Homo sapiens: one gene and its partners. The protein of the gene in region 4 interacts with the protein of the main gene of each other region in a pairwise test. Each region holds a gene or a part of one and is shown on either strand. Other genes may lie near its edges. The genes, in order: CCDC88B, NOTCH2NLA, CYB5D2, HCK, CTAG1A, NOTCH2NLC and BPIFA1.

The links.
Region 1: the proteins of HCK (region 4) and CCDC88B interact in binary tests that used the Homo sapiens proteins (3 or more experiments, as listed by UniProt).
Region 2: the proteins of HCK (region 4) and NOTCH2NLA interact in binary tests that used the Homo sapiens proteins (3 or more experiments, as listed by UniProt).
Region 3: the proteins of HCK (region 4) and CYB5D2 interact in binary tests that used the Homo sapiens proteins (3 or more experiments, as listed by UniProt).
Region 5: the proteins of HCK (region 4) and CTAG1A interact in binary tests that used the Homo sapiens proteins (3 or more experiments, as listed by UniProt).
Region 6: the proteins of HCK (region 4) and NOTCH2NLC interact in binary tests that used the Homo sapiens proteins (3 or more experiments, as listed by UniProt).
Region 7: the proteins of HCK (region 4) and BPIFA1 interact in binary tests that used the Homo sapiens proteins (3 or more experiments, as listed by UniProt).

The regions. Positions count from the first base shown.
Region 1 is NC_000011.10:64,353,704-64,357,203, reverse strand, and holds part of CCDC88B (coiled-coil domain-containing protein 88B), read right to left. Parts: intron 3,490-3,500; coding exon 3,391-3,489; intron 3,201-3,390; coding exon 3,034-3,200; intron 2,011-3,033; coding exon 1,804-2,010; intron 1,645-1,803; coding exon 1,576-1,644; intron 166-1,575; coding exon 110-165; 3' UTR 1-109. UniProt on the Homo sapiens protein: Acts as a positive regulator of T-cell maturation and inflammatory function.
Region 2 is NC_000001.11:146,219,022-146,222,521, forward strand, and holds part of NOTCH2NLA (notch homolog 2 N-terminal-like protein A), read right to left. Parts: intron 1-3,500.
Region 3 is NC_000017.11:4,149,697-4,153,196, forward strand, and holds part of CYB5D2 (neuferricin isoform 1 precursor), read left to right. Parts: intron 1-194; coding exon 195-335; intron 336-3,500. UniProt on the Homo sapiens protein: Heme-binding protein which promotes neuronal but not astrocyte differentiation.
Region 4 is NC_000020.11:32,055,242-32,058,741, reverse strand, and holds part of HCK (tyrosine-protein kinase HCK), read right to left. Parts: intron 1-3,500. UniProt on the Homo sapiens protein: Non-receptor tyrosine-protein kinase found in hematopoietic cells that transmits signals from cell surface receptors and plays an important role in the regulation of innate immune responses, including neutrophil, monocyte, macrophage and mast cell functions, phagocytosis, cell survival and proliferation, cell adhesion and migration.
Region 5 is NC_000023.11:154,583,927-154,587,316, reverse strand, and holds CTAG1A (cancer/testis antigen 1), read right to left. Parts: upstream 2,185-3,390; 5' UTR 2,111-2,184; coding exon 1,842-2,110; intron 1,166-1,841; coding exon 1,031-1,165; intron 792-1,030; coding exon 653-791; 3' UTR 501-652; downstream 1-500.
Region 6 is NC_000001.11:149,453,121-149,456,620, forward strand, and holds part of NOTCH2NLC (notch homolog 2 N-terminal-like protein C), read left to right. Parts: intron 1-2,197; coding exon 2,198-2,457; intron 2,458-3,500. UniProt on the Homo sapiens protein: Human-specific protein that promotes neural progenitor proliferation and evolutionary expansion of the brain neocortex by regulating the Notch signaling pathway.
Region 7 is NC_000020.11:33,234,819-33,238,795, forward strand, and holds the start of BPIFA1 (BPI fold-containing family A member 1 precursor), read left to right. Parts: upstream 1-1,177; 5' UTR 1,178-1,232; intron 1,233-2,878; 5' UTR 2,879-2,893; coding exon 2,894-3,053; intron 3,054-3,236; coding exon 3,237-3,396; intron 3,397-3,977.

The DNA of each region.
Region 1 (3,500 bases), on a different chromosome or scaffold from region 4:
GGACTCCCCTTGGGGTCCCTGGCTCCCTGAGCTCTTGGGCTGCCTGGGGCCTCCGCTGACACTCCAGTGCCGAGAAGGCTGCACTCCCAAGCCTGCTGTTCCCACGGTGTCACTGGCTGAGGGATGGGGTGAGGGGACGTTTCTCCGGTTCCTGTACCTCAGGGCCTAGAGGGAAAGGCTCAGCTGAGATCTGCTTCCCTCAGGAGGACTCCCAGAGTCCCAGGAGGCCCACAGGCTCGAGCACCTTCTGCCCACCCCCGACCTGCCAATACCCCCCGCTTCCAGCTGCACCACGCCTGCTGTTCCCTCAGCGGTTCCCTCTGCCCAGAATGCTGTTCTCAGGTATGTCCACACGACAAACTCTCCCCTCCAAGTCTTTGCTCCAATTTCACATCCTCTCTGAGGCCCACCCCAGCACCCCAGTTACTAAAACTCCAACCAGCCTGCCCAGAGCTCCTGAGCTCCTGACCCCTCCCCTGCTCTCCTTTCTTCCCAGAGCATTAGCGCCTCCTGATGGTCCAGCCGGGTCTAGGGCTGAGCTGCCCAGGGCGGAGCTAAGTAGGTGAGATGGGGTTGGCCTGTGACGTGCTTCAAAGACCTACTATGTTTTTTTGTTTTTTGTTTTTTGTTTTTGAGACAGTCTCACTCTGTCACCAACGCTGGAGTGCAATGGCGTGATCTTGGCTCACTGCACCCTCTGCCTCCCAGGTTCAAGCGATTCTCCTGCCTCAGCCCCCTGAGTAGGTGGGATTACAGGCATGGGACACCATGCCTGGCTAATTTTTGTAGTTTTAGTAGAGACGGGATTTCACCATTTTGGCTAGGCTGGTCTCTAACTTCTGGCCTCAAGTGATCTGCCTGCCTTGGCCTCCGAAACTGCCAAAGACTTACTATGAAAAAAATCACGTCTGGCTGGGTGGCTCACACCTATAATCCCAGCACTTTGGGAGGCTGAAGCGGGCGGATCACCTGAGGTCAGGAGTTCGAGACCAGCCTGACCAACATGGTGAAACCCCGTCTCTACTAAAAAAAATAATAATAATTATACAAAATTAGCCTGGCGTGGTGGCCCATGCCTGTAATCCCAGCTACTTGGGAGGCTGAGCCAGGAGAATCGTTTGAACCTGGGAGGAGGAGGTTGCAGTGAGCCAAAGAGTGAAATTCCATCTCAAAAAAAAAAAAAAAACATCACGTCTAATAGCTCATTCATGATTTTTACACTGGCTACATGCTGAAATGGTAATAGCGTAGGCATATTGAGTTAAATGTTATTAAAATCCATTGTACCTGTCTCTTTTCACTTTTTCTGGTAAGCCTACTGGAAAAGTTAAAATTATCATGTGGTTCACACCATATTTCTAGTGGACAGGGCTGTTGTAGATAATAATTATTTTTAGGCAAATTGTTTACTATCTGCCTCCTCACACCAGAACGTTCCCTGCTGTGTCCCCTGCCAGCACGTCACCTGGCACTTGGTAAAGGATCATTGTCGAATGAAAGAATGGATGAATGAGGTTCTGCCAGGGGCCCCAGGCAGGACAAAGAATACTACTCCTTCCACAGTCCCCCACTCACCCTCTCGGTTGGCATCTGTTTCGTGTTCCTGCAGGGTCTCAGCGGAGTTCTCCCATCCCACACCAGGTCCTGGGAGGCACAAGGCAACCACTGGGCCCAGGGCCAGTGCGGAAGTGGACAGAGCTTGCAGGAGACACAGGGGACAAGAAGGAAGCCTCCTCCCCCAAGGAGCTGGTGGGTCCACAAAGAGTTGGGGGGCTGGCTGGTACAGTGACCCTTGTCCCTCACCTTTGCTGTGGGAGACGGGCGCCCCCAGGGGGCCTGGATGGCGCTGTCGGAATCGTTGCCTAGGGGTGTCCCCAGGGCTGAATGACTCAGAGCTTCGCCCCACCGGGAACCTTGAGCTGAGTTTCCGCCGCTGCCCGCCTGCCAAGGTCTCATCCCGCAGGCAGAGGGAGCTCTGGGCCCGGCGCATGGGTGCCGGGGAAGGGGACCCTGCAAGAGGTACATGCAGGGAGGGGGTGAGAGGAGGGGACGGGAGCTGAGGCTCCTGTAGGGAGGAGGTCAGAGAATGGGGGGAGGCTGAGGCTCACGCAGGGAGGGGGTCAGACAAGGGGAGGGGGTGCTGAGGCTCCTGCAGGAAGGAGGTCAGAGAAGGGAAGTGGGGGCTGAGGCTCATGCACGGAGAGGGCCAGAGGAGGGGAGAGGGAGCTGAGGCTCATGCAGGGAGGGGGTCAGACGAGGGGAGCGGGGGGGCTGAGGCTCCTGCAGGGAGGAGGTCAGAGAAGGGAAGTGGGGGCTGAGGCTCATGCAGGGAGGGGGTCAGAGGAGGGGAGGAGGCTGAGGCTCATGCAGGGAGAGGGTCAGAGGAGGGGGGGAGGCTGAGGCTTATGCAGGGAGGGGGTCAGAGGAAGGGAACGGGGACTGAGTCTCATGCAGGGAGGGGGTCAGAAGAGGGGGCTGAGGTTCATGCAGGGGAGGGGTCAGAGGGGGGGGGCGGAGGCTCATGCAGGGAGGGGGTCAGAGGAACAGGGCCCTGGATGGAGTAGAGGGGCCAGTGGGTGAAGCTGCCCAGGGCCAGGGAGGGGAGGTGCAGAGGTGGGGGAGAAGCCAGGCAAATGAGTGGGGCAGCAGGACACTGGCCCTGTGCTGGCCTTCATACTAACTCACTGCATGACCTTGGGCAAAAGCTTCCCCTCCCGGGGCCTCAGTCTCCTCATCTGCAGTCTAGGAACAATGACCTCTCCCTAGAGTCCACTGCACCTCCCAGATCCTGGGCTCCGCTGCGGATGGGGCAGGCTGGGTCGGGGACAGCACAGGCAGGAGGGAGGTGTGGGCCAAGGGTGACCCTGTAGGACCCAGGGAAAAGAGCCCCTGGTGGCATCAGGGCAGGGGGGGCAGGCCTCAGGGAAGGCCAATGGGGTCACGCATGCAGGCCAGGCAGTGAGGCAGGTGCCAAGGTGGGGGACAGAGGATGTGGGGCAGGGACCATCCTGGCCACCTGACCCCCAGACCCACCTGTCCCATCTGCCTCCCTGCCCTCAGGAAGCTCCGTCTCCGGGGGGCCCCCCAGGCTCTCGGTGCTGCCAGCCCCATCGGCCCCCAGGCGCAGCCCCCCAGGGGGGCCCCCCTCCCGCCGGGGCCGCATCAGCCTCTTCACCTTGTCTGCCAGCCAGCTGCCCTTCCTGGGGGCAAGAGGGCACAAGAGGGGGTCAGGACAGGGAGGAGGGAGGGAGCAAAGGGTGTCCTGGGGATGTCAAAGGCCAGGTTGACCTTCATGGGGCCTGGACCTGAGCTGGGCCTGGGGTCAGAGGCCAGGGCAGGGGCAGAGGTTAGCAGGATGTCCAGCCTGAGGGAGGTGACAGGGCTGCTCACTTGGTCCGGGGCAGGGGCACAGGCTCCAGCACGCGGTATTGGTCCATGATCTTCTCCACGAGCTTCTGCTTCTCGCGGCGCAGGGCATTAAGCTGGTCCCTGGCAGGAGT
Region 2 (3,500 bases), on a different chromosome or scaffold from region 4:
CTGACCAAGCTAACTGGCTAGACCCACTGTACTGGCATTTATCCATTAGGTCAAAGTGTCAGAATTAGCAGTGCATGGTAGACATAGCATTAGTCCTGCCTTTCAGGGATGTTAAATGCTTCAAAAATCTTGGCTATCTAGAAAAGGAGGACAGTAGCCGATTACGTCACCCACCCAAAATCATGTATTTGACTCCAGAATACACTGCTTTTCTCCAACATATTTTTTTATTAAGTATTAAAGTAAATGTCAATTTCCTAGACATATACAGCTGAAAGCATGCTGATTTACGATACAGTCAGATAAGAACTTTCAAGTAGCTACAGAAAATAGCAGTTAACAAATGAATTAACCAATATCATTAGAAACCAAAGGATTAAAAAAAATTAACCTATGAAATGAACAATTTTTATATCAACATTGGTAGCAATTTGATGTTATGTTATATACTGCTAATTATTTCCATACATATTGTGACATATTTAAGACAAAAGACTAACACCCTTAATATTTAAAGAGCTTTTTCAAACCAGTAAGAAAATAATTAAATGAGTAAAAGACACAATTTACAAAAGAAGTAGGAAAAAAGGCAATACAAACGCCACTGATGATATGAAAAAACATTCAATATCACTGTAATGAGAGAGGCATATTAAGATTAAGTAATATTTACCACTTATCAAATGGTAAAGATTTTTAAAAATAAAACCTAGTGTTGACAATAGTATATTATGTGTGTGTGCATATATATATATGTAGATCTGTTCATAAACTAAAAAAAAAAAATATATATATATATATAAATAAATCAACAGCTTTTCTAAATCTAAGGGTAAAAAAACCAAAGACGTATACCAAAAAATTAATGGCAGCATGATTGTGGACATTTTATTTATGCTTTTCTAGATTCTTCAAACATCCTTAACTACTTTTTCAAACATAATTACTTTTTATATTACAAAAATAAAAAAATCTTGTAAAGGTGCCAGAGAAAATCAGCAAAGTATAAATATGAGTTAATTATCTGTAAACATAACGAATAATTCTGTTGCTACGTAAACCTACCTTAAACTGTTTCAATGTTTGCTTTTAGTTACAACTATTTTCCTTAACTCTCTTAGAAAGAATATGTCAGAGAAGCCACTACATATTACTTACTTTAAATAGTAACATAATGCCAAAGACTTGCATGAATCTCAGGATACGGTCTTTTACCTAAAATTCCTCATGAAGATTAGAATGCACTTTAAATGTTGTAATAAAGTAAATGCCCTTAATGTTTCTAACTAAAGAAGATCTAGCAAATAAATAAACCCATATTCACAGCAAATAAAAATATAATAAAATAATCGAAATACACATGTCCTCAAACTTCAATGTGTCTTGACAGCGTCTGAACCAAAGCATGTGTAAGGAGAGAATTAAACAAAAATGTCTTTGCTACTTACCACATTTACCATTTAGAGAAGTTAATATATCAGCACTATCTAGTTTTGTGATTATTCATACTTAGAAACTCAACAGAATAGATTAGTGAGTAAACAGTATTCAATTATTCTTATTTGAATGTTGGTTAGGTATACCAATAGAACAACCTCTCCCTGCTAGGTACCCGTTAAAATAGATTATTGAAAATATTTGAGGCTTAAAAACTTCCAGAATCTTCTCACACAAAAAAAGATGAAAATAAAAAGAGATGAAAAAGAAGCAAACAACAATTTTAAAACGTGCCTGCCTCAGAACAAGGCAGTTTATTTTAGAATGTAACCACAGCTTCTTGTACAACACCTTATTCATCAAGCACAACTGTATTTTAAAGGAATGCTATTTGTTAAAAAGACAACATATTTAGGATAAGGTATCTAACTCCAACCACAATATTATCATCATGTTTTCCTTACTTCACAAAATACACACATACATTCATCATATGAATAAACATATATAATAAAGGTGAGAGAGTTACTCTTAACCCAGAAACAGGTTCTGCAACACCCATAGATCCAACCTGTCGTTATGCAACAATGAGTCCATCTTGGCAAGATGTTTGGCTGATGTATTCAAATAACCCAGAGTTCTGCCAGCTGCCAGTATCCTGCAGAAGGAACTGACTCAGAGACCAGAAACTGCCCTAGGCAAGCCTCCAGGGAAAGGTGCTTCAGTCCAATGGGAAGAAAAACCCAGCCCCTCACTGCCTGGCCAGAGGACCCGGGGTACCATGGCTGGAGCGACGTAGCTGGCTGGAAATGCGAGAGGGGCAAGGGACACTAAGGTGAACCCCCAAGAGCTTGTTCAATCATACCTAGTAAAGGCCAAACTATTGGGGAGCTAGTAGAACAGGGTTTTGCCAAGACAAGTACAAAAGGGTGAGGGAGATATTAGTATGATTAATCAATGCCACCTGAGGCAGCAACTCTGGGTGTGTCCACACCACACTTCAGTCACTGCCTGGCTGTGACGAGAAGTTCCTTCAGCCACTGCCACTGAGAACTGCATCTTCCAAGGAAGATATTTCCACCATAACTTGTCCTAGTTCAGGCTTGGCATTCGGGACTAAGAACACAGCACTCTCTCTTGCCGCAAACCCACTAACAGACATAATAGACACCACAACATGTGCCAAATTTATATTTACACCCTCACCAGACAAAGGGGTTTTTGTCTTTTCCCCAAGCCAAGTTCTAATACTTCTAAATTACAACACAGAAAGAGGAAAATGGCAGACAGCTCACGACAGCAGACAAGCCCAGCAAGGGTGAGCTGGAGGTCGCCTTTCCCTGGTGGTATTAAGACCTGAAGTTTACTCCCAAGACCCTATAGCTCTGAGTCACCCTGACTGCAGGAAACTGCTTTCAGAGAGCATAGATAAATGATAAAATAACTGTATTTCATATTCCTAATTGTGTGCTTATCTGTCTTGTCTCCATGATGATGTCAGCTCCTTGGGAGCAGGACCATATTTTCTACTTGGTCAATGATTCCCACACATCTAGAAGAGTAGAATACCCTGTACTTGCTACCACATGATGCCAAGGGAAGCACACAAATTAAGTGTGACAACACACCACAATGCTCCCCCAATACACCACTAAGACAGCAGAGCTACAAAGATAGCAAATGTTAGTGCCAAGGGCTAGTGATCCTACCAGTGAATTACATGGAAACCTATGTATTTACATACACAAATTAATACAATAATTCCTTTGCTTTTCTTATTCCAAGCTATGGCTTTATCATCCCCCTTTCTTGGCTTTACTCTCCTTTTTAAGACCACAATGTATGTTCTGCCATACAGATAATATTCTCCTCAAAAAAGAGAGACAGGAGAAAAAACAGATCTACGGCAAACCTCCTACCACTACCAGTGATGCAGTTTGTCCCGTCTCAAGCCTATGAGCATATCCTTTCAGATCTGAAGCCACTTCCTTCTTCCTATCAAGGACAGTATTATCAAGTGTCTTTGTGAGAGGAGCAATCCTGTGCCCCTTCTTGCAGATTGT
Region 3 (3,500 bases), on a different chromosome or scaffold from region 4:
GCTGAAGCAGGAGAATGGCTTGAAAGCGGAAGGCAGAGGTTGCAGTGAGCTGAAATCATGCCACTGCACTCCAGCCTGGGCAACAGAGTGCGACTCCGTCTCAAAAAAAAAAGAAAAAGAAAGAAAACAGATTCTTGAGTGGGGATGGTGTCAGTGGTTTACACCTGGGTCTGATGGAAACATCTCTGTTCCAGGCCGAGACGCATCCAGAGCTTTCGTGACCGGGGACTGTTCTGAAGCAGGCCTCGTGGATGACGTATCCGACCTGTCAGCCGCTGAGATGCTGACACTTCACAATTGGCTTTCATTCTATGAGAAGAATTATGTGTGTGTTGGTAAGTCGTCCATAGGTCATACATTTCATTTGGTTGTCTGCAGTGTTTTTAGGGGGCTGAGATTTTTTAGGGATTGGGTTCAAGCTTAAAATCTGAAAAACAGCCATGGATTTGTTTTACTTTAAATTCTGGTCGTTAGAATAGGGATGAGCCGCCCAGAAGGAGATGGATGGGCACCTGCTTCCCCCACTCTTAGTCTTGGGAGAGGATTACTAAGCTGCTTGCTTTGGCCTCAGTTTCGCCATAGCCAGTGGTTGCTTGCACCATCCTTGAACAACCAGCTCCAGAAGGGCAGCTTCCCTGTCTCACTGTGTTCGATGCATCTGGCTTCAGCACACAGCCAGAAGGGCTTGAAGCCTGAATTTGTGTTTCGACAAATCCCCTTTTATTTGGTCCTCTAGGAGGAGACAAACTTCGTGAGTGAGCTGTCTCCCAGGTGGTAGTTATGCTAATCAAACCACTGTGTAGGTTACTGCACTTGCTACTTACTGATGCTACATAAGGGACTTGCTTCTCAAATGAGACAACACCAAACTGTGTCCTAAAGCAGTGTTAAAGACTCTAAACACTAGGCCCGGCGCAGTGGCTCACGACTGTAATACCAGCACTTTGGGAGGCTGAGGCGGTTGGATCACTTGAGGTCAGGAGTTCAAGACCAGCCTGGCCAACATGGTGAAACCCTGTCTCTACTAAAAAATACAAAAATTACCTGGGCGTGGTGGCACGCACCTGTACTCCCAGCTACTCAGGAGGCTGAGGCAGGAGAATCGCTTCAGCCCGGGAGATGGAGGTTGCAGTGACCTGAGATTGCGCTACTGCACTCCAGCCTCAACGAAAGACACTAAACACTAGATTGCTTCACAAGTACTGACAACTGGGATGGCCGTAGCCCTTTCTTCTATCTATCTGCAGCCCCCACGTCTCACTGGAGTCCTACTTGGACATGACTGACTTCCTGAGGAACACCAGTATCACTTCACCATCGAAACAGGTCTAACTTGGAAGAATTCTTTCCTTAATGCCTCTGAATTTCTGCTTCTGTCATCACTGCTTGAGTTACCTTTTCTGAGAACCTTGGCATTTTTATTAACACCTCAGCTCCCTCCACATCCAATCAATCATGGCTTTTTCATAATATCTAAAGTTTGTGTCCATCCATTGTGGGCCTCTGCAGCACGCCTTTCTTCATTTTCTCTCGTATGCCCAAGATCAGTCTTGAGACCATAACCCTGTCTACCATCGAAGGCACTGACCTCTACTCACCTGCGCTTCAGAGGGCTGGGTTCTTCCCTTTCCCAATGAAGTTGCCAAACCAAGGTTGAAACATTACTGGGTTAATAAAGAAAAGAAAACCCAATAGAAAAGAATAAGAGCCAGGAGTGGTCTCTCACACCTGTAATCCTAACACTTTGGGAGGCCGAGGTGGGCGGATCACCACCTGAGGTCAGGAGTTCAAGACCAGCCTGGCCAACATGGTGAAACCCTGTCTCTATTAAAATACAAAAATTAGCCGGGCATGATGGCAGGTGCCTGTAATCCCAGCTACTCAGGAGGCTGAGACGGGAGAATTGCTTAAACCTGGAAGACGGAGGTTGCAGTGAGCCAAGATCGCACCACTACACTCCAGCCTGGGTGGCTGAGTGAGACTCTGTCTCAAAAAAAAAGAAAAAAAAGAAAAAGAATAAGAATGGAGTCCAGACCGGTGGCTCATGCCTGTAATCCCAGCACTTTGGGAGGCTGAGGTGGTCGGATCAGTTGAGGTCAGGAGTTCAAGACCAGCCTGACCAACATGGCAAAACCATGTCTCTACTATAAATACAAAAAATTAGCTGGGTGTGGTGGGACACACCTGTAATCCCAGCTACTCAGGAGGCTGAAGCATGAGAATCACTTGAACCTGGAAGGCAGAGGTTGCGATAAGCCGAGATCACATCACTGCATTCCAGCCTGGGCAACGGAGTGAGACCCTGTCTCAAAAAAAAAAAAAAAAGAACAGAGTCCTGTAAATGGGCAAAGAATGCCAGGCCAAATACTTCATACTAAGATTTGGGAGCACACTGGAAGTGTTCGGATGCGTTTGGTGTGACAAGTGAGCTGGTCTTGTTTGAATGATGTATAATGTGTTGAGGATGGGGTGGGGCATGTGGCGGGAAATGCCTCAGAAGGATTTTAGTTGATGTCAGGATCTTATTGAATACCTACTACTCATAAGTTACGGGTTCCATCCTCAGGGGGACCAGGGATGAATTGAGTCCAGTTCCTGCCCCTGTTAGCTCATTCTGTAGGATAGGGGCCATGTTAGGCTCTTTCAGGTTACCAGAAACCCTCAGGATACATCAGTGGATGAAGGTTTATTGTAAGGGTACATACTGAAGTGAGGACAGCCAGGAAGCCATCTTGGCAGCCAACATGGCCAGGCCTCAAGGGAAAACAAGATGGCCTTGGTTATGCTGTGGATACAGGATTGGCTTGGAGATGCAGCCACTGGTGATCACCATTCTCATGACACAGATTCTAGAACTCTTCCTCTGTTGCCTCTGCTACTACTGTCCTCTCTTTGGGTCTCATGTCAGAAACTCACCAAAGACAGGCTTGTCACCATATAACACAGACACCCCAACCCCCGTAGTGGGAAATTCTGTGCCAGGCCAACTCATAGACTGCAGGCCTGTGACTCGGGCCCTGATTCCTTTCTTTATTCATCTAATAAGTATTTAAAATGAATGCTCTATGCTAAGCTGTTTTATTTATTTATATATTTTTTCAGATGGAGTCTTGCTTTGTCACCCAGGCTGGAGTGCAGTGGCACGACTGCAGCTCACTGCAACCTCCAACTTCTAGGTTCAAGCAGTTCTCCTGCCTCAGCCTCCTGGGTAGCTGGGATTACAGGCATGCACCACCACGCCCAGCAAATTTTTGTATTTTTAGTAGAGACAGGGTTTCACCATGTTGGCCTGGCTGGTCTCGAACCCCTGACCTCAAGTGATCTGCCCGCCTCAGCCTCCCAAAGTGCTGGGATTACAGGTGTGAGCCGCTGCGCCTGGCGCTAAGCTGTTCTGAGTACTGCGCCTCACTAGTAGAGAGAGCCATCATAGACAAGTAAACAGATTGAACAACTCCACATAGGACCATGCATCAAACTGTGATGTAATACGTTTGGGAGCT
Region 4 (3,500 bases):
GAATCAGCTCTCAAACTATTTGCATTTGAAACCTTGCCTAGGGTCTGCTTCTGGAGAAACTCAAACTAAGACATATACGCCATGATGGACTAGTGTGTGTATGTGTGTGTGTGTGTGTGTGTGTGTGTGTGTGTGTTTTGACATAAAAGGAATTGTGCTGCAGGAATCATGAGTAGTATCCTCCTCAGTTCTCCCCCTTTTTTTTTTTTTTGACAGAGTCTTGCTGTTGTCAGCCCAGGCTGGAGTGCAGTGGCAAGACCTTGGCTCACTGCAACCGTGCCTCCCGGGTTCCAGCAATTCTCCTGCCTCGGCTTCCCAAGTAGCTGAAATTACAGGCGCCCGCCACCACGCCCGGCTAATTTTTGCATTTTTAGTAGAGACGGGGTTTCACCATGTTGGCCAGGCTGGTCTTGAACTCCTGACCTCAGGTGATCCACCTGCTTTGTCCTCCCAAAGTGCTGGGATTACAGGTGTGAGCCACCGTGCCCAGCCTCAGTTCCATTTTTTTTTTGGATTTGGGAACTGAGGCTCAGAAAGGGAAGAGATTTGCCTAGTGCATCACAACCTGTCTTTGGCAGAGCTGGCACTCAGACTCGGGGTCGTCTACTGTACTGTACCCACTGTTCTTCATTTCTATGGTAGAGATGAGGCTGGGATTCCTGTTCTCTTGGCTGCACTTACATCTCCTGGGCCAAAGGATTTCAGGGTGATGCCTGGAACTCAGGGAGGTGACTCGAAGGGAGAGTCAGGAGCGCACGTCCTAGCGCAGTGCCATCCAGAGGATGCAGCATGTGGGACCACAGCCGGGGCCAAGACCAGGGCACATTTACACTTAAGCACAGGCTGCTTCTGCATCATTACCCACGCCTCTGAAAGTACCTTCAAACTCCCAGTCCTGTGGGGGAGGAAACTGGAGAAATGGGGTGGGGACCAACATGTGGTTGGTGCATGTGGTGGGGTTTGTTTAGAAAGGCAGAAGTGATTGCTTGATGACTTGTGGTATAAAAAAAGAAAAATAAACAACAACAAAAAGATGTAAGAAAGAAAGAGGCTGAGAGAGATTGTGCTACTAACTTGCTGTGTGACTTTGGGAAAGTCAATTACCCTCTCTAGGCTTCACATTCCTTTTCTTTTCTTTTTATGAGACAGGGTCTTGCTCTGTCACCCAGGCTGGAGTACAGTGGTGCAGTCTCAGATCACTGCAACCTTCACCTTCTGTGCTCAGACGATCCTCCCACCTCAGCCTCCTGAGTAGCTGGTACTACAGCCATGTGCCACCACACCCAGCTAATTTTTGTACTTTTTGTAGAGACAGGGTTTTGCCATGTTACCCAGGCTGGTCTCGAACTCCTGAGCTCAGATGATCTGCCTGTCTCGGCCTCCCAAAGTGCTGGGATTACAGGGTGAGCCACCGCACCCAGCCCTTCATGTTCCTTTTCTATAAAAAAGGAAGCCTTGTCATGACCCGAAGGGTGGGGTTTGAAAACTCAAATGACTATAGGGATGTGGAGGGTTCTGCGGATGAGGAAAGTGGGCCTGGCAAGGGCTGTGCAAGCTGGACAGCCCAGGTGTAGCCCCCAGGGCAGCCCCCAGCTCCACTGAGGTTGTCTGAAGAGCACTGGAGTCGTGGGTTCTAGTCTCAGGGCTGCTAACTCTTCTAATGTTTTAGGAGACAGAAATCCAGATTATGTGAGCTCTCCTGAGTTTAAATGTTAGCAACTAATTAAAAATAATCGCTGCGGGTGGAGGGGTGTTCGGGGAGGGCAGCTGAAATATCTCAGGCAAGGGAGGGAGGAGGTTGTCCAACATTCATTGCGTTTGTCCCATCAGTGTTTTTTTGAGGCCCTACTATGTGCCAGGTGCCAGGTGTTAGAAGATACAGTGGTTTATAGGACAAACATGTTTGTGCTCTTGTAGAATTTACTTTCTAGAAGAGTTTAAAGTCCAAGCCCTGGCTAGTCCTTAGAATGTAGACAACTTTCTCCTTACTTTCTGAGGTAAGAGCCCTCAGAGGGCAGCCTGGTTTGAATGAGATTAAGATTCGTGCTTTCTGTACCCATTAGAATGGTAATAATAATACTAATAAAATATAAACATAGTAGGCATTGGCAAGGATGTGAAGCCAATTGAAACCCTTGTATATTACGGTGGGAATGTAAAATGGTGGAAAACAGCATAGCAGTTCCTCAAAAAGTTAAAGATAGAACTACTGTTTTTTTTTTTTCTGAGAAGGAGTCTCGCTCTGTCGCCCAGGCTAGAGTGCAGTGGCTCGATCTCGGCTCACTGCAAGCTCCGCCTCCCGGGTTCATGCCATTCTCCTGCCTCAGCCTCCCGAGTAGCTGGGACTACAGGCGCCCACCACAATGCCCGGCTAATTTTTTTGTATTTTTTTAGTAGAGACGAGGTTTCACCGTGTTAACCGGGATGATCTCCATCTCCTGACCTCGTGATCCGCCCGCCTCAGCCTCCCAGAGTGCTGGGATTACAGGCGTGAGCCACCGCACCCGGCCACAGAGATAGAACTTTTATATGACCCAGTAACTCTACTTCAGGTATATACCCAAAGGAATTGAAAACAGGTGCTCAAACAAATACATGTATGCACATGCATGCTCATAGCAGTATTATTTTCAATGGTCAAAATGTGGAAACAACCTGAATTTCCATCTGTGGATAAATGGGTAAATAAACTGTGGAATATCCATACAATGGAATATTATTTGGCCACAAAGGGAATAAAGTACTAATAGTTGCCACCATGTGGATGAACCTTGGAAAACATTATGTTAAGTGGAAGAAGCTAGACACAGAAAGTCACATAGTATGCTTCTATTTATGTTAAATATCCTGAATAAATTAGTCCGTAGAGGCAAAAAGCAGATTGGTGGTTGCCAGGGGCCGGGGGAATGGGGGGTAATTGCTTAATGGGTACAAAGTTTCCTTTTTCAGGGGTGATGGAAATGTTTAGGAGCTACTGACAGGTAGTGTTTGTACAACATTGTGAATATACCAAATACCACTGAATTGTTCGCTTTAAAAATCATATAGTTAATTTTATAAAGTTATGTGAATTTCACCTCGATTAAAATATTTCTAAAAATTTTGAACTATATAAAAGATTGCTCTGCTAGAAAGGTTAAGCAAATTATAATACAGGCAAACAGTGGAATATTATGCAGCCACTAAAAATTTAAGAACATTTTAATGACCTGGAAAATGCTACAATGTAATACTAAGCAAATAAATAGGATAAAAATAATCTATGTGTAGCATTATACTAATTATGTTAATTTAAAAGTGCATAGAAAAGACTACATAAAGATACATGAAAATATTGGTTATTGTTCCCTCAAAAGGTTCATGCTTCCATTTTCTTGAACACTTATTAAGTGCCAGGCATAGTGAGTAAGGCAAGTGAAGTGCCTTACAGCAGAGAACATGAGGCCTGAAAGAAAGGCCATTGATCCAGAGACGGCTGGGAGATCAGCAGAGCAACATTC
Region 5 (3,390 bases), on a different chromosome or scaffold from region 4:
ACATTGCCCAGGGTGGCCTCCAACTGCAGGTCTCAAGCCATCCTCCCGCTTCAAGCCTCCCACAGTGCTGGAAATACAGGTGTGGGCCACCATGCCCAACCCATATCACATGCTTAACAGTGATATGATAATGCTGGTTCTATGCATCTATTCAAGTACGTTTTCAAAGAATTTTTCCCAAGTAAAAAAGCTCATATGTTCAATGAAAACAATTTGGGAAAAAATTTAATGCTGACCTGGAAAAACATTATATATGCTACTGTCATATATTTAACATATAAATGCAAGTATATTGAGGAAAATATTCTAAAATGTCCACAGTAGTTAATGCTGAATGGCGGGACCCAGTGGCTTTTCATTTTCCCCCATTTCCCAAATTGCCTCCCGTTACCTTGTGCTACTTCAATCTGTGAATCCCAGAGCCTCCCCTGCAACCCGAGGACAAGGGCATGCAAGTCCGAAGGTGCCTTCGCTCGCCGAAAAGAGACTCAGACACGGAATCGTAGCTCAGTTTTATTTTCTACAGAAACAAACATGTAAGCCGTCCTCCTCCAGCGACAAACAATCAGGCCCCCACAATGAACTGGCCACTCGTGCTGGGACCATTCCCTAGGGGAGGAGGCATGACCTAGGAAGGGGCGCCAGGCTGGGCTTAGCGCCTCTGCCCTGAGGGAGGCTGAGCCAAAAACACGGGCAGAAAGCACTGCGTGATCCACATCAACAGGGAAAGCTGCTGGAGACAGGAGCTGATGGAGAGCTGCAGTTGGCGGTGGTCTGCAGCAGTCAGTCGGCTAAATGTGAGGGGCAGAGAACATCACGTTAAAGGCGACACCTCTGCACCCATCTCCCTGGGCTCCCTCGGGTGGCGGCGGGCCTGGTGTACCAGGTCTCTGTTCTGAGACCCTGTGCTGGGGTGTTCCCAGGTTTCTAGCAGCCTGACCGTGGGGTGTAGGCGGATCCCAGCCCCCACCCTGCCACGCTGTGACCGCCACCCACCCAGGCCCCATCCCTGTCCTGGTCCTGAACTGACATAGTCAGTATGTTGCCGGACACAGTGAACTCCTTCAGAAGCACCCCTGGCACGGGAAGCGGTGGGGCATCCTGGGCCAGGCTCCTGCGGGCCAGCTCTGCTTCCATGGGTGTCGCGAAAGGCATGGCGAGGTAGCTGGTGGGGGCCCAGTTAAGGCATCCTCTCCTAGGACTTGGCCTGTGGCTCCGGCCTGCTGCTTACCCCAGGCCAGCTTCCCCCTCCCCCACTCCCCCACCCCTCCCCCCTACCCCGGATTGCCCAGCCCATCCCCCCCAGGCTGTCTCCCCAGGCACTGGCCCAGTAGCACACCCCACCCAGCTGTCTTGGTTCCCCACTTTCCTTTGCTGCACCCCAAGCTGACTCCTCCATGCCCTTACAAGACCCCTCCCCACCCTGCCCCCTGTGGCATCACCCGGCCCCCTCCTCATCACTCGACCCTCCATCCCAACCACCTCCCGCCACCCGCTCCCATCTTGCCCCCTTCCCCCCACCTCCTGATCCCCTCCTACACCTGGGTCCCCCTATCTCCTGGCCCCTGCTCCCCTCCCCGCATGACCCGGTGCCCCTCACCCAATCACCCAGCCCCTCTCCCCCACCCCCACCCCCTCTACCTCCCAGCCCTTACCTCCTCCCCTCCTCGCAGCTGGCCTCTCATATCCCCACCTCCCAACCCCCACCCCCACCCCCACCCAACCACTTACTCGCATCTCCCCCGCCTCCTCCCCCACCTGGCCCTGCCCTCCCCATCTCCCGGCCCCCACCTCGCCACCAGAACTGTCAGAACAGAACAGAACAGAACAGAACAGAATACAACTCAAGCAGGCGGCTCTCCGGCCCCCTGGCCCCGCATCTGCAGCATCCATTCAGCCCTGAAGCCGCGCCGCCATGCGGACCCCGCGGGGCGCCTCCTCCCGGCCCCGAGGCCCTTGCTGCCCCTGCGCCCCGGGGACCTCTGCCGCCCGTGGCACCCGCCTCTCCTGGGCCGCCAGCATTGCCCCCTGGGCCATCAGGAATGCCAGGGCCTCCTGGGCCATCAGCATCGCCCGTCGAACCCCCTGTGCCCCGGCCTTCGGCCTGCATGGCTCCGGAGCCTCTGCCCGGCTCTCAGAGAGAAGGTCAGGGCCCACGAGGATGCGGAGGCAGAGAGGCTGCAGGAAGTTCCGCCCCCTGGCGTGAGATGGGCAGCCCGGGATCCTCAGGGCGCCTGCGCACAGGGGCCCTACTTCCGGCCCTGGGAGACCCCGAGTGAGCCCCGGAGCACGTGACCGGTTCTCACCAACCCCGCCCCTCCCCAAGAGAGCCCGGGCCGGAAGGTGGCCGCAATGCCAGCTTGGACCCCTCACCCCTGAGCAGCCGGCTGTCCGCCGGACCCCTGTCCCGGGAGCCCTGCAGGGAGTCAGGCACTGCGGGGCCCAGCCTGTCCCATCCCCCGGGTCTCCCTCACATCGAGGAGCAAGACGGGCCTGGGAACACGGGGCCGGGACTGTGCGGCCATCGTCCCGGACCCTGCCTGCCCTGTCCGTCCTTGGGGGAGCGCCCAGGACAGACCCCGGGGGGCAGGCCTCTAACTGGGCTCAGCAGCCTCCGTCCCTGTCCTGGTCGCCCAGCTGGTGGGGTAGCTGGAACTGCATGTCTGGTGGGCGTGGCCTCGCGCCAGCCAAGGTCTCCCAGGCGCCAGGTCCAGCCAAGGTGGACGGGAGGGCCCAGCGGGACCCGGGGCCGGATCTCACTCCTGGGTTCAACGGGTTCTGTCCCTGTCCTAGTCGCCCCGCCTGGTGGGGGAGCTGGAGCTGCGTGTGGGGTGGGTTGCGGGTGGCCTCCCACCAGCCAGGGGCTCCCGGGCTCTAGGCCTGGCCCAGGTGGACAGGCGGGACCTGCTGGACCTGAGGCTGGGTCGGGCCTGGCTCCTGGGTTCGGCAGTATCAGTCCCTGCCCTGGTCGCTCTTGCCTGGTAGGGAGCTGGGAGGTGACCCTGTGTCTGCTCAGTGGTGATCTATTTGTGTGTCTGGAAGGGGGTCAAATCCACGGGACAGGTACCTCTAGAGGCATGCAGGGGTGAGGGCGGCACGGCCCCGGGAGCTGAATGTCTGTGCCAGGCACACCTGTAGCAACAGGAGGTGACCAGACAGGGCCTAGCCCTGAGGAAGGGGGAGGTACTGAAATCCAAACCACTCTCCCCCACCTTCCAAATCCAGGAATCAGCAGCCTCTGCACCTGGGAAAAGCATATTGGCACTCATGTGGAAACTAAAAACGTTGATCTTTTGGAGGTAGAGCAGAATGATGGTTACCAGACGCTGGGAAAGGTGGGGAGGGTGGGGAGGTTAATGGGGACAAACATATAGTTGCATAGAAGGATTA
Region 6 (3,500 bases), on a different chromosome or scaffold from region 4:
TCAAATCAAGCTGTGATTTGGATGGGGCATTGTATTTTCCTCAATAAGCACAAAGAAGAGAGAAAAGATGTTTTCACTTGGCAAAACTTTTTTTTTTGAGATGGAATCTCACTCTGTTGCCCAGGCTGGAGTGTAGTGGCACAATCTCGTCGGCTCACTGCAACCTCCGCCTCCCGGGTTCAAGCAATTCTCATGCCTCAGCCTCCCGAGTAGCTGGGATTACAAGCGTGCACCACCACCCTGGCTAATTTTTGTATTTTTAGTAGAGCCAGGGTTTCACCATGTTGGCCGGGCTATTCTCAAACTCCTGACCTCAGATGGTCCTCACACCTCAGCCTCCCAAAGTGCTGGAATTACAGGTGTGAGCCACTGTGCCCAGCCCACTTGCAAAACTTTTTAACATTTATAAGGTTTTTTACATACTTGATTTTGTTCAGTTCTTAGAATAATCTCATGATGTAGGTGACCTTATTAACTATTTACAATGTGAGAAAATGGATAGTCAGTGAAGATAAGTAACTTGTCCAAGGTCACAGCACCAGAACTCCAAACCAGACCTTCTGACCTTCTTGATACAGACTCCTCACAGTCACCTGCATGCCATCTTTGGTTTCAGTGCTATGAACTTTCTTCACTGCCTGTTGGTCTGTAGCTACACCTACTCATGAAGATGCCCAGAGCCTTAGCCGCTCCTTGCTCTGCCATGCTTATCTTATGCAGCTCTGGGAGGGGTGAAGAGGCTGTGGCCAGTTACCTCACTACCACTATAGCTATTCACCACCCTGTTTTCTCCTTTAGCCATTTTAGCTACTACACAATTCTTCTGGGCATTTTCTGTCTTAGTTCCCTAGTATCTGGCCTTCCTTCTTTTCTCAGTAACTGTGACCCCTGCTAGCTAGCCTTGCCAACCAATGGTTAATGAAAGGTCTTGGATATGACTGTCAAAGACAAAAGCACTCATGACCCCAATGTTTCAGGTCACAATGATTAGGAAAATCAGGACAACAAGGCTTGGGCACAGAAAAGCTGGTTTTTGAGAGGGGGATTTAGAGTTTGGTTTAAATGTGTAATCTTTGAGGTAATGGTGGAACAGCCTACTAGATTCAGTTTTCTAGTCCCTGAAAACTAAAACGAGGAATAAGTTGAATCACATATTTGGGGCACCAGCCAAATATATAGCAGCATTTATAGTTAGAATCAAAGTGTTTGTGTTTCTTAATTTAAATGCTTCTCAGAGATTCCATTTAAACAACTTCATTATGAAAATGGAGACTTACCATGCCTTTTTGATATTGTTCAGAGAAAATTGTCATAAATAATACACACAGTTTGAAATGGTTGTACATCTTATGAATCAAGGGGTGGCATGTAAAAAGGTTCCTCAGTGCCTCAATGTGGAAAATATCATAGAATGTTATTCTTCAATTGATTCCTTCCTTCACTTTGGTGTTTATATGGTATCTTAGATATTTTATGTTATTTAATTATATTTTGTGCCTTTTTATTTGGTTAAAAATGCCTACTTAAATATTAACAGATTTTTAAATATCCCTTTGAACTCTTCCCCATTCCTGTACCTCCTTTCCCTTTTTCTGTTGTAATGTCAGCCACCTGAACATAACCCAGAAAACTAGGTATCAGCCAATTGATGTTTCAGTGGAAATAAGAGAAAGAAGCACTTACTATTTCTCAATGCTTAATTGAGGAAAAGCACATGATACCTTACATATTTTAAATTGGAGGGGATAATAGGGTCAAGTTCATGCATTATATTGTGGACATCTTAATCCTATCAAATGGCTTAGTCAAAATGAGAAAGTTAATGAATTTAAGCAGACAAGTACGAACAGTGCTCTAAAAAAGGTGCTGTTACACCATCCCAACCTGTACACACATGAAAAAAAGCTGGGGTGCATTTTGCGTTTGAATAAGGGTCATGTTGACTGGCCATGGCAGACCCTGCTAGACCATACAGCTGATACTCTGTCACCTGCCAGGACTCAAAAGGACATGGGAGTATGTGGTTAAGTTCTCTAAGGACTCTTTCTTCTAAAGGGAAGCAGTTTTATAGGTGGTCCTTGTAGGTCTGTTGATTCACAATCTCGTGCTTTCTTGATTGGACTGTATTGTTTTACTGTAATTTTTTGGACTTACAAGAAGTCAGGTGTTTTCATGGACTCTTCTCTTTTCCATACAGATGTCCAGAAGGCTTCTTGGGGGAATATTGTCAACATCGAGACCCCTGTGAGAAGAACCGCTGCCAGAATGGTGGGACTTGTGTGGCCCAGGCCATGCTGGGGAAAGCCACGTGCCGATGTGCCTCAGGGTTTACAGGAGAGGACTGCCAGTACTCGACATCTCATCCATGCTTTGTGTCTCGACCTTGCCTGAATGGCGGCACATGCCATATGCTCAGCCGGGATACCTATGAGTGCACCTGTCAAGTCGGGTTTACAGGTAACTAATGAGACCAAAGCCAGTGCTTTCCTACCTTCAGCAGATACCTTTATTTAGCATCTTTTAGATCATGGTATCTGGCTCTTAAATGTCCCCCAGCTCTGGTGCACATTTAACATTATGATAAGGAACTGGGATGTTCCAGACAACTATCCCTAACTTCCTTTTAAGAGTTTCAGGGGGCAGAGAAAGAGAAAGAAAAAGGACCAAATACTTTGACTGCTTAAAGTATATATGTCAGGGCCAGGTGCGGTGGCGTACGCTTGCAATCCCAGCATTTTGGCAGGCCAAGGCAGGAGGATCACTTGAGGCTAGAGGTTTGAGACCAGCCTGGGAAACATAGCAAGACCCCATCTCTACAAAAAAACAAGAATAAAAATAAAACAAAATTAGTCATGTGTGGTGGTGTGCACCTGTAGTCCTAACTACTTGGGAGGCTGAAGTGGAAGAATTGCTTGAGCCCAGGAGTTTGAGGCTGCAGTGAGCTATGATCGCACCACTGCACTCTAGCCTGGGTGACAGAGTGAGACCCTGTCTCAAAAAAAAAAATATGTACACCAGGATGGGGAATCAGAGTTTACTTCACTAAAAGAAATAAGTACACTGTCACCAGAGGAAAAGTTGCTGATGTTATTGACTATTTGCTTTTAGAAATCTCCCTCCCTAGACATTCAGGGCACTGGCTTTTCTGGTTTTCTGAACCCTGTTCCTTTTGCTTCTTCATTACCTTGTTCTTATCCATTAAATGTTTGTGCTCCCTGGAGCACTGTTTTTCGCCCTCTTTTGAGCCACATCACAGCTCTCCCTAGGGAATTTCACTGTCTGTATTCGCCTCCACTGCCACTGTCTTCATTAGCTTGCTGATGAATCTCACCATCATTCCCTTAGCTCCACCCAACCCTGACATTCAGGCTCATGTTTCTAGCTATCCTTTGTATGTTCTCCTTGGAGATATTCTACAGGTACTTTCAGCTCACCTTGTTGACAGAAATACGTAGCAACCATGTACATCCCAAATACCCACGCTAGAAACTCCCTGTCCC
Region 7 (3,977 bases), 1.2 Mb from region 4:
AGGACAGCCTGGCCAACATGGTGAAACCCCATCTCTACTAAAAATACAAAAACTTTGCCAGGCATGGTGGCGCTCGCCTGTAGTCCCAGCTGCTCAGGAGGCTGAGGCAGGAGAATCACTTGAACCCGGGAGGTGGAGGTTGTCATGAGCTGAGATCACACCACTGCACTCTAGCCTGGGCGACAGAGTAAGACTGTCTCAAAAAATAAAATAAAATAAAAATTAAGTGAAAATTTAAAAAATAAAAAGGGACGCATGAAAGTGTAAAGTTCACAGGTGGGGAAATCAAAATGGCCAGCAAGTGTTGGGAGGCACCTTCATCTCTCAGTGCAGTGATTCGGGGAAAGGACCTGAATGTGGATGTCTCACCCCAGGCAAGCACTGCATCTCTGGACAACTTGCCTCACACTCAGCCTCAGTTTCCCCCTTATAGAATAGGAGTACAGGGTTGTGAGGATTTTGTGAGATGCTGCCTGTGAACACCATGGCAGGCCAGGCATACAGCAGGAGCTCGGCCAGTGTCTGCTGTTGGCGTTGTTTTTGTTGTTTTCATTCTCCAGTCAGTTGCATTCTAACTCTGCTGCATCCTCTCTGGGTCTTTCAGCACTTGTCCCCACTGGATCTCAGTTTCCTCCTCTATAAAAGAGGAGGAGTCACCTCTCCCTCTCAGGGTTCTTGTGAGGACAGAGAGCTCCTGACGTGCAATAGGGGCTCTGAAAACAGGAGACCCTTGCCCTGGAATGGAGACGCACCCCAGATGTAGGATGCAGTGTGACTCTTTTGACATTTTAGGAGAAAGAATCCTCCAACTGGAGCAAAAAAATTAGAGCAGGAGAGGAAAGGGGCCAAGAGATGAGACTGAGGTCCCTTCCTGGGCTCTGTCTGGCTGCTCCTTTCAATGCTCCAAGCTACCTTGGGAGCGTGGGTCCCCAACCTTGGCTCCGCTCAGGAAACCATAAAGTCTTGAGTAACATCCCATCTCAGGTTTTTCTCTGTTTATCTTGTTGACCAAATAGCTTAACTGTCTCACCTGCTAATGTGATTGGCAATTATTTACTTTGGAGAGCCCTGAAAGACACTGTCAGATTGCAGAATTCTCAATTATCTAGAAACCCATCACCCAACACATGCTTCCTCGTCCCCATACTATAAAAGAGGCTGACTCCTCGGCAGAAGTGAGTGGGGGAGAGAGAGGAGACCAGGACAGCTGCTGAGACCTCTAAGAAGTCCAGGTAAGAGCCATCCATTCTGTGGCCCCTCTGCTACCCTTAACGGCAGGGATCTCAGGCTCCTGCCCTGTGGGGCAGTGAGTGATCTTGATCACTCACTGGGGGCTGTGCAAGAGAAACAGACCTGGCCAATGTCAGGGATGTGGGGATGGCCATTTGCTCTGCTGTCCTAAGAGACCAGTAACATTGATATAGAAATGGGCACTATTAATGCCGTAAATGAAAGCCTCTAAGGCATAAGTTTTAGCTTGAGGTTACCAATGTGGATACAGATGATCCAAAAACCTCCTAAAATTCTTCACCCAATTTTATACATTTTGATGCATTTTTTCTGAGACTAGGATCTTTAGCTTCCATTGGATTCATAAAGGGTCTGTTGCCCAAAAGAGATTCAGAGGCTGTGGTCAAAGTTACCTCCCTAAGAAGGGCACAACTGGCTCTTTGGACCAAAGACCTTTCATTTCCAGCCTTCCACCACAAGGATGGAGCTTTAGCTGAGTCAGCCAATAGATGGAATTTTGCACAAAGTCACCAGTTGTCTCCAAATTGTAGGTACTAGTGCTGGCTCTGGACAACTCTGCTGGCTGCCAAATAGACCTGTGAGAGGTCTGCAAGCCAAACCTCAGGGGTTGACCGGAATTCCATCCAGGGCAGCTTGAAGGAGAAGAGAAAGGTGTCAAAATGATAGAATGCATGTTTGTGTGTTGGGTGAGGGGAGGGTTGGGAGACCTGCCTTCAACCACAGCTCTGCCATCAATTTATTGTATGACCTTGGGAAAGTCACTACCCCTCTTTGGTCTCCTGGTTCTTCTCATGCAATGAAGACTTTGATGGCCCCAGGAATTCCCCAACAAAGGTCTACATGAGATGGTGGCTGTGGCCATGCGACCCCTGTATTGTGTGACTTTCAAGGGCATCCACCAACCATCATGGCCTGAGCTCAGGCCAAAGGACTGAACAGGGATGATCTAAAACAGTTCAATTCTTCAGCACTTGCACGTTTAACCCTTCTCATTTGCTTTGTCTGAAGAGCAGCAATGATTCAAACCATTGAAGCAAGCCCGATTGGAGAATAAATCTGATGGTTACTTAATTTAACCGAGGGTTCACCTGGCTCTAGCTTCTAATCCTCTGTCCACCGTGTACTTGTGACCTTGGGGAAAGTTACCCACACTCGGTAGTACACAAGTGGGTTTCAAGAAGGGATGGGAGTATATTTGAAACTCCCAACTGCAAACTCACTTGACCTCTGTGAGCCTTGGTTTCTCCTACTGGAAAATCAGACAAGTGAACTGTGGGCAAGATGGAGTGAGGTGAGGCTGGGATTCTTGGCAAGAAGGAAAAAAACCCTCTTCTTTGGAATGTGGTGGAGTGGGGCTGTCTCCTTTTTAGGCCCCTGATCAGTGGTCCTCACCTGTGCAATGCAGGTAACAGGTGCCCATGTCTTAGGGTTGTGATGAAGATGAAATTGTGTAAAGTGGTCAGCCTGTTGCCTGGCAAAGAGAAATTGTTCAGCAGTATTAGCTATTACTAGTGACCCCCTGGTGTTCTGGGGAGCAAACAACCCCACCCCCCAGGTGTCAGGGCAGGTGGTGGATAAATTCCTCTCTGATACCCATGCCATGTTGGACTTGTCATTCTGGCCACAGATACTAAGAGCAAAGATGTTTCAAACTGGGGGCCTCATTGTCTTCTACGGGCTGTTAGCCCAGACCATGGCCCAGTTTGGAGGCCTGCCCGTGCCCCTGGACCAGACCCTGCCCTTGAATGTGAATCCAGCCCTGCCCTTGAGTCCCACAGGTCTTGCAGGAAGCTTGACAAATGGTGAGTTTTCAGGGGTGTATGTGTGCATGTGTGTGTGTGTGTGTGTGTGTGTGTGTGTGTGTGTGTGTGTGTGTGTGTGTCCAACCCTGCAAAGTGGGGAGGGACAGGGCTGGATGGGGGAGGGGGCCTGAGGATCTGGAATTGTCAGATCTGACCCCCAGAGACCCTTACACCCATTTCCAGCCCTCAGCAATGGCCTGCTGTCTGGGGGCCTGTTGGGCATTCTGGAAAACCTTCCGCTCCTGGACATCCTGAAGCCTGGAGGAGGTACTTCTGGTGGCCTCCTTGGGGGACTGCTTGGAAAAGTGACGTCAGTGATTCCTGGCCTGAACAACATCATTGAGTGAGTTGTCCTAAAATAGAGCTTTGATCTCCACCAGGGAACCCCAGGTGAAGATCTGCCAGCCCCAGGCAGTGACCCTGAAGCAGCGACCCTGAAGCAGCGAGGGAGCGGCCTGAAGATGGAGCCAGGACTCAGTTCTGAGACCCATCTCCAGTTTGGCAGGGACACCCGTCCTCCCCAAACCAGCAATGCCCTCAGTTCTAGGCATGTCCTGAGGCCCCAGCATCATCTATAATCCTCACCACAACCCTTTGAGGTCGATTTAATAATCTCCAGTTTGCAAATGGGAAAACCAAAGCACAGAGGTGCCTGTGTTCACGCTGCTAGAGTGATGCCAAGTGAGTAAGGCTCTCACTCTACTATCCTAACTCCAAAGCCAAGGCTCTTCCCACTACACTGTGGTCATTTTGTTCTCTGCACCTGTGAAATCCCTTAGAACACAGACGGCCTTTGATGTTAGCGAGAGTATAACCTGCCCACCTTGATGATATCAATGTGATGAAAAACAGTGTGATGTCCATGGAAAGGTCTAACGTGGAGTTTCCCATGAGACACCCAAGAGCTCGCAAAGCAAAAAGCAA